Linked DNA regions of Homo sapiens. The protein of the gene in region 2 interacts with the protein of the main gene of each other region in a pairwise test. Each region holds a gene or a part of one and is shown on either strand. Other genes may lie near its edges. The genes, in order: ZFYVE27 and SPAST.

What was found.
Region 1: the proteins of SPAST (region 2) and ZFYVE27 interact in binary tests that used the Homo sapiens proteins (3 or more experiments, as listed by UniProt).

Annotation. Positions count from the first base shown.
Region 1 is NC_000010.11:97,753,478-97,761,787, forward strand, and holds the end of ZFYVE27 (protrudin), read left to right. Parts: intron 1-1,249; coding exon of another isoform or gene 1,250-1,275; exon of another isoform or gene 1,276-3,787; coding exon 3,788-3,834; intron 3,835-4,164; coding exon 4,165-4,246; intron 4,247-4,390; coding exon of another isoform or gene 4,391-4,401; exon of another isoform or gene 4,402-4,704; intron 4,705-5,758; coding exon 5,759-5,823; 3' UTR 5,824-7,418; downstream 7,419-8,310. UniProt on the Homo sapiens protein: Key regulator of RAB11-dependent vesicular trafficking during neurite extension through polarized membrane transport. Promotes axonal elongation and contributes to the establishment of neuronal cell polarity.
Region 2 is NC_000002.12:32,136,556-32,143,555, reverse strand, and holds part of SPAST (spastin), read right to left. Parts: intron 6,994-7,000; coding exon 6,918-6,993; intron 6,680-6,917; coding exon 6,588-6,679; intron 6,448-6,587; coding exon 6,368-6,447; intron 1,653-6,367; coding exon 1,610-1,652; intron 221-1,609; coding exon 141-220; intron 1-140. UniProt on the Homo sapiens protein: ATP-dependent microtubule severing protein that specifically recognizes and cuts microtubules that are polyglutamylated.

The DNA.
Region 1 (8,310 bases), on a different chromosome or scaffold from region 2:
TAATCCTGACAGAACTTCAGAAGGCAGTGTAGCATGATGGTGAGGAACAGAGTAGAGTCTCACTGCCTGCTGCAAATCCCAGCTCAGCCAGGTGTCCTTGAGCAAATTATTTCACACCCCGTGCCTCAGTTTCCCCTTCTGTAAAAGGGGGATCATCATTCTTACCTCATAGGGTTGTTACAGGTCTCATGTCAAATGAGACAGTAGTACTTACGAAGGGCTAGCACAGTGCTGGTTGGTTCATAGTAAGTAGTGGGTGCGGTTAATGTGGGAGGCCCTGACCCACGCTGTGGGTTCCTAGGATCCTGTCTTGGTCTTTCTTATCCAGCTGGAAGCAAGTTGAAGCAAACATTGTTTCTCTGGACGTGATAGAGCCCTGAGTTCACCTCTCCCCAGCCAGTCCTTATTTTACTGAGGGTCGGGGGAGAGCGGTCAAGGAAGGCAGCTTTGGAGAAGGGTGGACTTGACAGCACAGCTTAGAGACCTGGCTCAGATCAGCAGCGCTGAGAGCTGAGCCACATACAATTATGGTGGAAACCTAGAGTAGCTAGGTTGACCTGGGAGCTGCTGTGCTCCTGAGGAAGGGCCCTCCTGCCTGCTGTCAGATGGGAGCAGGGTAAGGGGGCAGTACTGTGTGTTCTGGTGTTGAGTGAGTTCTAGGGTCTGTGCCCTGGAAGAAGACAATGGAGTTTATCTTGAGGAATTTGACTCAGGGCCCCCAGGGTCCTGCCTTCCTACCCCTGCAGCAGCCAGGGCAGTTGTTTTCTCAGGATTAGATGTCCTGGACAGGCTCTTTCTTTCTGCTGTGTGAATGTCCCCCAGTTATTCAAGATCCCTTTTTTTTTTTTTTTTTGAGACAAGGTCTCACTGTGTCTCCCAGGCTGGAGTGCAGTGGCATGATCACAGCTCACTGCATCCTCGACTTCCTGGGCTCAAGTGATCCTCACAGCTCAGCCTCCCGAGTAGCTGGGACTACAGGCATGTAGCACCATGCCTGGCTAATTTTTGAATTTTTTTTGTAGAGACAGGGTCTTACTTTGTTCCTCAGGCTGGTCTTGAACTCTTGGGTTTAAGTGATTCTTGTACCTTGGTCTTCCAAAGTGTTAGGATTACAAGTGTGAGCCACCACGCCCGGCCCCTTTGTTTTATTTATGCTGCCTGCTGACTTCTGCAGGGCATTCTGTATGTTCAGTGATCTGTTTACCCTCCATACTTGCACATGTGTGATCTCATTTCATCCTTACCGTAGGTGTGACAGGAGCAGGCAGTTCTTAAGGGTTCAGAGCAGCCAGATTCCAGCAGTGCCCGGTAACACTACACACAAGAAGTATTACTCTGGTCCAGCAAATAATTTGTCTATTTCTACAACTTCTAAGTAAAGGTACTTAGCTGTTCCCATTTTACAGATGAATAACCTGAGGTAAAAAGAGTGCTTTGCCCAGAGACTTTGGCCTGGAAATGGTGGAGCTGTGACTCAAATTCAGGTTGTCTGATTCGGCTCTTGTCTTCTTTCTACCTCTTCATCCTCCCTCTCTGTTTTCCCTTTGCCCTTGCGTGTGAAGTCCCTTGTTTTATGCCTGTCCCGCTTTTGTATTTGATTTTTGGTTTGGATAATCTCTACCAGCATGGGCAGAGGCCTTTTCAGCCTCCCTCAAGGATGGCAAGGGCAGAAAGTGCTTCTTTTCCTAAACTCCTCTTAGTTCCTCATCCTTCAAGACCACTTGCTACTTTCCCTTTTCTGAGATGTTCCCAAGCTCTTTGCCATGAGGGCAGGTGTAGCAGCTCTGCTCCTGCGGCCTCTGCTCCTGAACCTGGGTCCTGAGAGCAGGGCGAGGGGAGCTGCTTTGGGGGCTTTCTCCATTTCAGCGACTATAACGAAATACACTAAGCTGGGGGGCTTTTAAATAATGGAAATCTCTCATCACAGTTCTGGAGGCTGGAAGTCCAAGATCAGGGTGTCAGCAGGATCAGGTTCTGGTGAGGTCCATTTCCGTCGTCATAGACAGCACCTTCTCACTGTGTCCTCATGAGAAGGTGGGAGGGGCACGGCAGTTCTCTGGGGCCTCTTTTATAAGGGCACTAATCCCATTCACGAGGGCTCCACCCTCATGACCCGGTCACCTCCCAGGGGCCCTGCTTTGGGTGTTAGGATTCCACATGTGAATGTTAGGGGACTGTGGTGGGGGCTATTCTATTTACCCCTGCCAGTGGATGAGGGGGTGCATGGGGAGAATGAGGGCAGACTGCAAAGGAGCTTCTCTGTGGCCTCCGTATGGGAGAGGTCTTGGTGGGGAGGGCCCCCCTTTGTCCTGGAGGCTCCATGACTGTTGCCCTGGCAGGCCCCACTGGGCCTTAGTGCCCCTGCTGTCATGGCCTCGGTGGCATCGTCACGTGGTGAGTGAGGATGGGTGAGTCCAGGCTGTTGCTGAGAAGGGGCAGAAAGAGTTGGTAGGTGTTGGAAGGGAACGTCACCTGGCTGAGCTGCTCTCAGCTCCCAGAGCCCTCCCTGGCTCCGGTCTGTGAGTGGGTTCACAGCTGTCTCCCCAGCCCACTTGGCTGCCCTGGGGTGCTTGGCCCTGACATTCCATTCAGTTTAGAGGAGACCTTGGGCTCAGGTCAGTGTCAGTCTTTGAGTAGCTCCTTTTGCCTGTCCCATTCCCCTTGTGTCCCTTGCTAAGGAGAGGCTGGGGCAGGCTGCCTTCCCCAAATTCTTGGTGTAGGGACAGAATCTTGGAGCAGCCAGTTTCCTGGTTTGGCACCAGCAGTAGGCTTGTTCTTCTCTTTCCCTGGCTGACTGACAGGGTGGGCATTTACCTGAAGCACCTTGGCCTCAGATTTCCCCTGGCTCTAGCAGAGGTCTTCCTTTCCCTGAACCTAGGGAGTCTCCTTTAGCAAGAACTTCAGGTGATTTTGGCTGGACAGAGGAAGGGACCACATGTAGCCGTCAATAAAGCTTTGGGGCCTTTCTGTGAAAGTGAGGCCTGGTGCTCTGTACTTGCCCAGACAGGTGGTCCGGCTGGGTCATAGCAGGCCTATGGGCCCCACATCCCAGAAACCTCATTCTCTGTCTCTCCTCTCCCCTTACACCCCCTTGTTGTCTTCTAGCCATTTTCTAAGCTGCCGTTGCCCCTCCACTGTTGCCGGGCACTTGGCCATCTTGGCATCTCTGGTGGTTTAGGCAGGACCTCTCCCTGCTCTGCGTCCCCCCATGCCACTCACTGCCCACCACAATTGAGCATTCTACCCTTCGTGTCTTTACAGTTGAGCATTCTACCCTTCATGTCTTCTTGGAATGTGCCTGGCTCTGAGTTTCTCTCCTGCAGTCTTCAGGGGACAGAAAGCAGGAGTTTAGGTTTTTAGGAGTTTCTGTCTTTAGCCTGTGGGTGGAGTATTTGTAAGGCATTGCTCCGGAAAGGGTCATGTTAGGCAGGTGTCATTTGGGGATGCCTGTGGTCAGGTCCCTGCCAGCTTAGCTGGCTTTCTTGGAGTGGATTCTGCTGGGTGCTCTTTGATTTCTGTTGAACCTGTAGGTAGGGCCACTCAGCTCTGGAAGGGTTCAGGGACTGGTAGCTATGTATGGCTGGAGACATCAGTCCTCAGGGGCTATCAGTCTTCTTAGTTTGAGTCCTTCTTTCTGTCTCTGAATCTGGCCTTGCTCCCTGGCTCACTGTGTCCAGCCAAGGAGGCTGGGCTGGTGTCCTGAGTGTCCCATTTAGAAGCGCCAGGAGCAGGTGAGCGTGAGAGTCCTGGGATGGGCGGGGGTTGAGCTGCTGCCTCTGTTTCTCAGGGAACTGCACGGGCTGCTCGGCCACCTTCTCAGTGCTGAAGAAGAGGGTGAGTGTCTGTGAGGGTGCATTTGTTGGGGACAGTGTCCTTGGGACTGTCGGGTGGGGAGGAGTTGAGGGGAGTCATTGAGAAAGTCTGGCTCGGGTCACATTGGGCCTGGCAGTGGCTTTCTGGAGTGAGTGTGCCCTCCCCTGCGCCTGTGCCACCTTTTACCAGCCTCCCCAGGGGGTATTCCATTTGCTCTCTTTCCTGCTCCACTTGGGCACCCCCCAGGCCCAGTTTCCTTGGGTGGGATCAGCTGGTGGAAAGGAGGGAGGTGCTGAGAACTCCAGGTACCTGAGGGTGAGGGACACATCTGACCTTGGCTCTTGTCTGCAGCGGAGCTGCAGTAATTGTGGAAACAGCTTCTGCTCTCGATGCTGCTCCTTCAAGGTGCCCAAGTCCTCCATGGGGGCCACAGGTGAGTGGTGCAGGTGGTGGGAGGGCTTGGTTGGTATCCCGCCCAGGGGATGTCACGCTGTGGCACAGAGGCAAGGGTGTCAGAGGTCAAGGGAACTTGGGATTGTAGTCAGGCCTACGGGAACGTTTCCTCCATCCCCTTTAGCAAAATCCTGAAACATTTGGTACATGCCGAAGAATAGATATGATGTACCTGTGAATTGTGAAGGGTAATAACAAGATGAATACCTGTGGCTGCTTCACTAAAGTTGAAAAACAAGAGCCCTGGCAACACCCCCGCAGCTCCCAGCACTGCTCCTGCCTTCCTGGAGTCAATCACCAGCCGCAATTTTAATCTTTTTCTTATTTCCTTGGCACTTTGAACAAAACTAAAAATTCCTTTTTTTCCTTTTATAAAATATAAAATATTTCCTATACATATTGTAAATAAAAAACACAGATAAGCAAAAGGAAAAAAAATTCCTGATTTCTTCCTGAGAGAACAATCGGGCATGGACCCTGCTGCTCATTAGCTTGCATGTAGAATAAAAGCACATGCATATTCCTGAAAAATGTGGTCACATTTCATGTACCGTTTTGTAGTATAATGTTAAACCAAGTTTTTTTTTTTTTTTTTTTGAGACGGAGTTTCACTCTTGTTGCCCAGGCTGGAGTGCAGTGGTACGGCCTTGGCTCACCACAACCTCTGCCTCCTGGGTTCAAGCAATTCTCCTGCCTCAGCCTCCCGAGTAGCTGGGATTACAGGCATGCGCCACCACACCCGGCTAATTTTGTATTTTAGTAGAGACGGGGTTTCTCCATGTTGGTCAGGCTGGTTTTGAACTCCTGACCTCAGGTGATCTGCCCGCCTCGGCCTCCCAAAGTGCTGGGATTACAGGCGTGAGCCACCGCCCCCAGCCCAAGTTCTTTTTTCTTCCGATGCAAGTAACATATGCTTACTAACTAGAAAATTTGGAAATTATTATACAGAGGACGAAGGAAGAGAAAAATAACCCTGTAATTTTACCACCCAGAGGTAACCACTGTTAAAACATTTTGGGAAATTTCACTGTGATATTTTACTTATTCTGTTTTTTTGAGACAGAGTCTCGCTCTGTCGCCCAGCCTGGAGTGCAGTGGCGCCATCTCGGCTCACTGCAACCTCCGCCTCTTGGGTTCAAACAATTCTTGTGCTTCAGCCTCCTGAGTAGCTGGGATTACAGGCGTGCATCACCATGCCTGGCTAATTTTTGTATTTAATATTTTATTTAAAAATTTTTGAAGGTGTTCTGTTGGTGCCACAATAATGTCTAATTCATAGCACAGGAGTGGCCTGCTGTTGGCATCATCACCCCCAGGATCCCCAGTTCCCATGGAAAGAAGAATCTCTGCGGGCAGGCTAGCAAGCTGGGCAGGGAGGGTGTGGGCTGGGTGGGGGGTCTGTGTGGGGCATTTGGGAGGGTGCTTCTAGTAGTTGGGGCCATGAACCAAAGGGCGCAAGGAAATGTCTCACCAAGTTCTTCCTCCTTTTCAGCCCCTGAAGCCCAGAGGGAGACTGTGTTTGTGTGTGCCTCGTGTAACCAGACCTTGAGCAAGTGAGAAGAGAGGCCAGGGTCCAACCAGGCACCCGTCCTTGGGACCAGCAGTAGACCCCCCACTCTCCCCACCCCTGGCCCACTGTGGTGTGTGCTGGGCAAATGTGGCCTGAATGCTAGGTAGGCTTCCCCTTCCTTCCTCACTCTCTCCAGCTGGATTCTGGAGCTGTTCTCCATCCATGAGAGTGGCTGGCAATGGCTGCTCTCAATCCCTTGAGGGAGAAGAGCCCCTGGAGGGCCTGGCATGTTTGTCCTGCTCTGCCTGGGACTGAGCGAGTGGACTTAGGGCTGGGCAGGCAGTAGCCACCAGAGGGCAGCAGCGAACTAGGCCAGGCCTGACTGGGGTCTGAAGATCAGGGTCAGTGTGGCTGTGCCTGGGAATTCCAGACCTGAGGTTGGGAAAAGAGGTTTTTCTCCTGCAGGGTACTGGGCCAGGCCCTCAGCCTCAGAGAGCCTGCAGAAGGGCTTGGGAGTGCCACACCCCATCTCTGCTGATTGAATGTCCCTCCAGGCACCAGGATCTCATCATTTCCCCATCAGAGGGTGTGGCCAGGCCTAACAAGACCATGGGTGCTTCTAGAAACAGGGTTGAAGTTCCCAGATTCCCTGAGAGGAGAATGTGTATAGGAGGGTTTGGCTGAGTCCTTCAGCGTTAAGTGGAGGAAAGCTTGGGGAAGCCCCAATAGCTGGACAGACCTCGGCCTCCCCTCGAAGACACCTCAATTCACAGACTCTCAGCCCACACAATGCCCCAGTGTCCCCAGCTCCGCTGGAGCAGCTGCAGGGCACTTGGATCACAACTTCTGCACCCTCTGTCCAGAGTCTAGGGCAGTCCTCCACTGGCCCAGCACTCCAGTTTCCTTTCCCTGCCTCTTGTCCAATGGAGTGGGAGGCCAGGTGAGTGGAGCAGAGGTCCTGAAGCCCTTGACCCCTGGGGGCCTGGGTAGTGTAGGATCTCGCTGGGCTGGGTCCTGGATTCCAGGGCTATTCCCTGGAGGACAGTCTCAGTTATGGGATAAGGCCCCCTGGGGGTCTCCATTTCTTTCCAACAGTTTCATGTTCACTACTGGACTCTTACGGGCTCAGTATCTCTCCCTTAGCCATGAGCTGGCTCAGGCATCCCTTCCCTTCCCTGGAGCTGCCCTGCCTTTCTCAAGTATTTATTTATTTATTGCATGGTTCCTGGGAACATGTGGCACAAGTAATGGGATGAGGAGGAATTGGGGGTGGGGGTCTTCTACCTAGGACTCTTCCCTGGAGTCATGGGCTGCCTGGGACCCAGGACCCATGAGGGGGCTGAGAGGTTTCTACACTCGAGGAGCAGGGGTCCAGAGAGGCAGGCTGGGGAGGCAAGGGACCCATCCTAGGCCCGCTTTCTTGCCGAGCCAAGCAGCTTAGCTGGGGCTGTGCAGCCAGGGGCTTACCCAGGCCAGTGGAGGTGCCACAGCCCTGGGGAGCCAGACAGGCTTTGGTATCGTATCGCCTCTGTGTCCTTTTAAGAGAGGAGAGTTCAGTACCCCGTGCTTTCTTTACACTGGAGAGGAACTAAAAGGATCTCTGTGTCTATGGAGAATTGTCAATAAAAAGGCCTCAAGCTTCTTGTTTTTGTCATGTCTTTGTGTTGGCATTTTCCCTGAGGCTGGAAGACCAGATCTCTCTGGCACTGCTGGAGTTTTGCAGGCCTGGGCAATTCCTGCAGGACCAGGCTGAGGGGCGGGCCTTTGGGGCACCATGGTGGCAGGGGCGTGGGGGCTGCAGCCTGGTCTGGGTATGAGCTGGGGGCCAAGAGGAGGAAAGCTGTGCCTTGCACGCAGGAGAGGCTCAGCAAATGCTTGTCGGATTGACTTGAGGCCCAGTCTTGTGACCCAATTGTGAGGGCCCAGCACTGGGGGTTGGGGTTGGGACTAGAACTTGGTAAACCCCAAACAATGCAGGCTTTACAACGGAAAGATTTTAACTAATCCCTCTGAGAAAGCCAGAAAGGGTCAGCCTTCAGGGAGGCTGAGAGCAGCAGGAAAGAGGATTGGACATGAGATGGGAAGTGCAAGCCATGCCCTGAGCTGGGGCAGGTGGGTGGTGGGTGGCTGGGTGCTGGGCACTGGTGAGGGCTTTGCGTGCAGTATCTCATTTATTGCTCACAGCAACTCTGAGGTAGGCACTGTTCCCCTGAAGTAGGAGCAGAGTCCCTGCAGCAGTAGAGGGTGGTGCCTGGCGCCTGCTGTGGCCCACCTCCATGCTTGGACCCCTTTACCATCTGTTGGAGCGGTGCTGGGGCCCATTGGCATAGGGATGCTGCCCCCAGGCTCACTGTGCTTTCCTCCTCTGGAAAGTGCACCTGATGGTGATGCATAGCTTGTGCGGGTGCTGTGAGAGAAATGAGAGAGTCGACGGGAGGCATGGGGCCCGGTGCCTGGCATGCTGGACACGCTGGCTCCTGTCATCCTGGCCACCTTCAGAGGACAAACAGCTCTGTCCTGGGTGGCTTAGAACA
Region 2 (7,000 bases):
AGGAGGTAGAGGATGAGAGAAAGTCTTCTGATCAATGAATTACTCATTTCATACTTAAGATTACTTTAAATAACTAAAAAAAGAATTATTTACAAAAAATAAATAAAAGCTGTAAGATAAACCAAATCCAAATTACTCACCTAGCAAGTTGTGCTAGTTCTTTTTGGGTCAATGGACTTCCTTGTTTACATAACAGATTTTTAAGCAAAAGTAGTCTTGTCTGAAAAATATTAAAAAATGATCATTCAGTCTAATTTCAGAATTAATGATTCTTTTCTTTTTTTATATTGAGACAGGGTCTTGTGCTGTTACCCAGGCTGGAGTGCAGGGCACAATCATAGCTCACTATAGCCTCGATATCCTGGGTTCAAGCAATCCTCCCATCTCAGCCTCCCGAGTAACTGGGACCAAAGGCACGTGCCACCATGCCTGGTTAATTTCTAAAAAAGTTTTTGTAGAGACAGGGTCTCCCTATGTTGCCCAGGCTGGTCTTGAATTCCTGGCTCAAGCGATCCTCCCACCTCAGCCTCCCAAAGTGTTGGGATTATAGGCGTGAGACACCACACCTGGATAAAAACATAGCAATAATTCACCACACTTGAATAAAAACATAGCAATAAATATTTTGCTGCAAAAAACCAGTTTTATAGAGGTATGAATTCATCTACTATGAATTTCACCCATTGTAAGTATATAATTCAATGAGTTTTAATACATTTATAGATGTGCAATCATCACCACAATCCAGTTTTAGAACACTTTTTAGTTCACTCATACCTGTTTGCAGTTAATCCTCATTCCCAACTCTCACCCTGACAACCCACTGATCTGCTTTACGTTTCTAGAAATTTTCGATTTCTGGCCGGGCACGGTGACTCATGCCTGTAATCCCAGCACTTTGGGAGGCTGAGGAGGGCGGATCACACCATCCTGGCTAACACAGTGAAACCCGTCTCTACTAAAAACACAAAAAATTAGCCAGGCCTGGTGGCACATGCCTGCAGTCCCAGCTACTCAGGAGGCTGAGGCAGGAGAATCACTTGAACCCAGGAGGTGAAGGTTGCAGTGAGCCGAGATCACGCCACTGCACTCCAGCCTGAGCGACAGAGCAAGACTCCATCTCAAAAAAATAAATAAATAAAAAATAAATTTGCGTTTTCTGCATATAAACAGAATCCTATGATATGCGACATATATCATCTTGCTTCTTTCACTTATAATGTTTTGGAGTTTCATTCATAAAACTTAATATATGAAGTGAGTATGCAGCATGTATAATGGATAACAGTATCCATTAAATGAATATACCACATTTGTTTATTCACCAAAATAAACATTTTAGATCATTTGTAGTTCTGGCTATTATTAATATTGCTGCTATAAAAATTCTTGTACAAGTCTTTGTGTGGACATACATTTTTGTTTCTCTGGGGTAAATTCTTAGGAGTGAAATTGCTGGCTCTGACAGTAAGCTTATGTACATCTTTTTAAGAAACCACTAAACTGTTTTCCAAAGTAGCTGTACCATGGATTGGAAGACTTAATATTGTCAAGATGGTAGTTCTTGTTTCTGCTCTAAAACAAAAAAAATTCAAACACAGATACATACCTCCTCATTTGGTAAAGACACATATACCCGTTTGATGAAACGCCTAAAAAAAAAAATCCAGCACTTTTAGAAATATAATTTTGAATTTAAAGCTGAAACAGCAAATGACAGGAAAAGCTTTTAAAATATAATATTCAAGGCACTGGAATGCATTTTGGTAGTTATCAATGTAAAAATATTTTTGTTACTCTTTTAAAACTCTAGTTAATGTTTAAAATCCTTAATTCGGTATTGTTAGAATTAATCATTTATGTATGTATATGTTTTTAATAGCAGTAATGCTTTAAAACAAACAAAATATCTGATATAAGTAGATCTGTCTTCTTGAATCTGAAAAAAACTAAAATCAGCAAGGATAATAGAAACAGAAACATACACTTCATCAACAAACTAGGTAACATTTATGGAACTAAAATACATAAAGGTGAACTGCCTAGGGCAGTGAAAATTACACTGACAAAGGAAGACACACAAAGGATCTGCCGCTAAAGATCATGGACATGACTGTCAGAGTACAGTTTTCCTCCCAAAAAGAGATAGCACACCCTAAAGGGTAATAAGGCCAGTCCCTCCACATTTAAACAAGCATATGAAGCCTGGCTCTGCAGACCATATAAACCCTAATTGATAGCATAGGAATGGCAAGGAAGGTGAGAATGAACAAAGAAACTCTAAGACGAATTATCTTTATAAGAAGGCATCTAACAGTCTGGCGGGAAGACAATGTCTTGCAGTGACCAATATTTTTTAGTAGAAGAATAAATCAACCCTATCTCTTATTTACATACACATATACTTCATTATTAGGTAGGGCTTCACTGTAAGTGAGGGAGGCTGCATGCTAGTTTAGTGTATACATGGACTACTCAAGATACCTATCCCTTCCCCTACAATATCCTTCCAAAACTAGGTTTTCCAAGAAAACTCCTTTTATTCAAAGAAAAATAATAAGCAAAAAAGGAAAAACCAGGACAGGGCTCATTTAAAAAAAAAAAAAAAAAAACAACAACAACAAAACCTGCCCCCAAAAAAGAGCAAACAAAACACAATAAACATAAACTAGATAAAATGAAGAACATGCATGAGAAGATTTTGCCATAGAGCAAACTAAAATTATGACCAAGTATCTTTCCACGAAATAAAATAATTTAATTTTTTAAAAATTTAATTTTTTTTATCCTTAAGTTTTTTTTATAGATATGGGGTTTTGCCACGTTGGCGAGGCTGGTCTGGAATTCCCGGCCTCAAGTGATCTGGCCTCCCAAAGTGCTGGGATTACAGGTGTGACCCACCATGACGCCTGACCAAAAAATTTTTTCTTTTTTTTTTTGAGACAGAGCCTTGCTCTGTCCCCCAGGCTAGAGTACAGTGCCGCCGTCTTGGCTCACTGCAACCTCTGCCTCCTGGGTTCAAGCGATTATCAGCCTCCTGAGTAGCTGGGATTACAGGTGTGTGTGACCACACCCAGCTAATTTTTTGTATTTTTAGCAGAGACAGGGTTGTACTATGTTGGCCAGGCTGGTCTCAAACTCCTGGCCTCAAGTGGTCTGTCCTTGCCAAAAAATTGTTTTCTATGAAACAAGAGCCCAGTGAAATGTAAGAGCTTATGGAAATAACATACAGATGCTCAAAGAAATAAAACAGAAGATGAAAAGTAGAATAACAGATGTCAGGAAAGTAATGAATAAAAAACCACCAAGGAAAGAAGAGTTACAAAAGATATAGCAGAAAGGAGATTAGATACTAACCCAGTAAGAAATAAAGGCAACAGGCTTGGGAAAACAGAACAAAACAAAAAGACCTAAGAGTTTAAAAGGATGAAGAAGAAAATTACAGATAGGGAAAACAAAAGGACGCAACATAACACATAATTTATGTGCAAAAGAAAACAGAAAAATGAACTAGGGAAAAAAATTAAGATAAATTTCCCATTTTAACGATATTGATTCTTCCAATCCATGAGCATGGAGTGTTTTTCCATTTATTTGTGTCACCTCTGATTTATTTTAGCAGTGCTTTACACTTCTCCTCATACAGATTCTTTCACCTCCTTCATCAGCCGTATTCCTAGGTACTCCATTGTCTTTTTTTTTTTCTTTTTTTTTTTTTAATTTTGGAAACGGATTCTTGCTCTTTCACACCCAGGCTGCAGTGCAGTGGCACGATCTCGGCTCACTGCAACCTATGCCTCCTGGGTTCAAGCAATTCTCCTGCCTCAGCCTCCCGAGCAGATGGGATTACAGGCGCCCACCACCACGCCTGGCTAATTTTTTGTATTTTTAGTAGAGACGGGGTTTCACCATGTTGGTCAGGCTGGTCTCGAACTCCTGACCTCAGGTGATCCACCTGCCTCAGCCTCCCAAAGTGCTGGGATTACAGGCATGAGCCACTGTGCCCAGCCATTATTTCATTTTCTTTGTGGCTATTGTAAATGGGACTGTGTTCTTGATTTGACTCTTAGCCTGGACATTATTAGCGTATAGAAATGGTACTAATTTTTTGTACACTGATTTTGTATCCTGAATCTTGGGGTAAAATCATTTATCAGTTCTAGTAGCCTTTTGACGGAATTTTTAGGGTTTTCAAAGTATAGAATCATATTGCCAGTGAAGAGTGAGAGTATGATGACTTCTTTTCCTATTTGGATGCCTTTTGTTTCCTTCTCTTGCCTGATTTATCTGGTCGTAAAATGACTATACTGCCCAAAGCAATTTACAGATTCAATGGTATTTCTATCAAACTATCAATGTTGTTTTTCACAAAATTAGAAAAAAATATTCTAAAATTCATATGGAAGCAAAAAAAGAGTCCAAATAGACAAAGCAATCCTAAGCAAAAAGAACAAAGCTGTAAGTATCACGTTACCTGACTTTAAACCGAACTACACAGCAGCCCAAACAGCATAATTCTGGTATAAAAACAGACACACAAACCAAAGGAACAGGACAGAAAATTGAGAAATAAAGCCACACACCTATAACCATCTGATCTTTGATAAGACTGACAAAAACAAGCAATGAGGAAAAGGACTCCCTATTCAATAAATGGCATGGGGATTACTGGCTAGCCATATGTAGAAAAATGAAACTGGACCCTTACTTTTCACCATATACAAAAATTAACTCAAGGTGGATTAAAGATTTAAATGTAAGATCTCAAAGTATAAAAATGCTAGAAGAAAACTAGGAAATACACTTCTTGACATCAGCCTCAGAAAGAAATTTTGGCTAAGTCCCCAAACACAATTGCAACAAAAATAAAAATTGACAAGTGGGACCTAATTAAACTAAAGAGCTTCTGCACAGCAAAAAGAACCATCAACAGAGTAAACAGACAATCTACAGAACTGCATCTAACAATGGTCTGATATCCAGAATCTATAAGGAATTCAAACAATTGAACAAGCTAAAAACACACAACCCTATTAAAAAATGGGTAAAAAGGAAATGAATAGACACTTCTCAAAAGACATACGAGGGGACAACAAACATGAAAAAATGCTCATCATCACTAACCATCAGAAAAATGCAAATCAAAATCACAATGAGATATCTCACACCAGTCAGAATGGCTATTAATAAAATGGCAAAAAAAATCCCATATTGTCTACAGATTGGCGGGAAAAAGTAAAAAAATAACAGATGTTGGTGAGGTTGTGGAGCGTATGTACTGCTGGTAGGAATGTAAAGTTCAGTCATTGTAGAAAGCAGTTTGAAGATTTCTCAAAAAACATAAAACAAATCTACCTTTGACCCTGAAATCCCATTACTGGGTATATACCCAAAGGAAAATAGATCATTATACCAAAAAGACATGCATTTCATGTTTATTGCTGTACTATTCATGACAGCAGACATAGAATCAATCTAAGTGTCCATCAATGGTGGACTGGATAAAGAAAATGTGGTACGTACACACCATGGAATACTATGTACTACGCAGCCATAAAAAAGAATGAAATAATGTCCTTTGCAGCAACATGGATGGAGGTGGAGGCCTTAATACTACGCCAATTAATGTGGGAACAGTAAACCAAATAGCTCATGTTCTCATAAGTGGGGAGCTAAAAATTGAGTACACATGGACATAAACATGGGAACAATACACACTGCGGACTACTACATGGGGGAAGAAAGCAGTGAGGTGTGGGTTGAAAAACTACCTACTGCACCCTATGCTCACTACCTGGGTGCAATATACCCACGTAACCCATCCAGTAAAGAGAGAAAAAAATCAAGTTATTTTACAAATTTGAAAAAATCAATTTGGATTCAGACTTTTACACTACTACAGCCAATCTAGAAACAATGGAGCAATATTGTAAATTCCTTGGGAAAGGATGCCCAAGAATTTTATGCTGACCCAAACCGTCCTTCCAGTATGAAGGGAATAAACTGCTCAAACACACAAGAACAGAAAACACATTTTCCATGAACCCTGATTTGATTATTTTCTCATGAAGCCCAATAAAAGACGGTAAGAATCAATTTTCAAGTTTAAAGATAATTTAATGCAACCCAGAAGAACTGACCAATTTGCCTAAAACCGTAACTAAACCTTTACTAGACTAATTCTCCTGATATCAAGCTGTTGACCTCAAAATCCTTATGTAGTTGGTAACAAGAGGCTAGAGATAGTACTGGAAGAAAATAGTGAATTTAGTCTTAAAACTGAGAGTAAGGAAATAATATGTAAGATGGACACATGAGTAAATATTGTCTGTAATAAATGCATGTATTTCCATATAAATCTCCCTACCTGAGAACAGCCTCATCAAGCTCTTGTGGCCTATTAGTTGCACCCATTACAAGTACTCTGTCATCTCCAGCAGACTGTACCTACAAGCAAAAAATCTTTTTTCAATTCATTTAGAAAAGTAATAACAAATATAAAGATATTTGTATTTTTAACCTTGGCCATTTAATAGGAAAATATACTAAAATGCTGCCACATTAAAAATATCATAATCAACACTTACACCATCAAATTCTATTAGAAATTCAGTTTTTAGGCGTCTACTAGCATCGTGCTCCCCTTCTCTTCTTTCACACAAAAGGCTATCAACTTCATCTAGAGGAAATACAAGTATAAGACTTTAATTAAAGACCAAGCTATGTGAGTCATCTGAGATTAATCTAGTTTACTACTTATTAATATAGTGGGTCCTACTAAATTCATTAGATAGTCTTTAAGCTTGCCCTTCTTTAAAACTTCTTCCTTCTGAATAATGTTTCCAATCGTATCTTTCCTATTTGGAGAGGGAAATTTCACAAATAGTCAATAACTTAGTTGGAAAATATGTTCTTACCTATAAAAATTATAGAAGGTTGAAGTTCTCGAGCCACAGCAAAAAGAGCCCTCACCAATTTCTCTCCTTCTCCCACCTAAAAC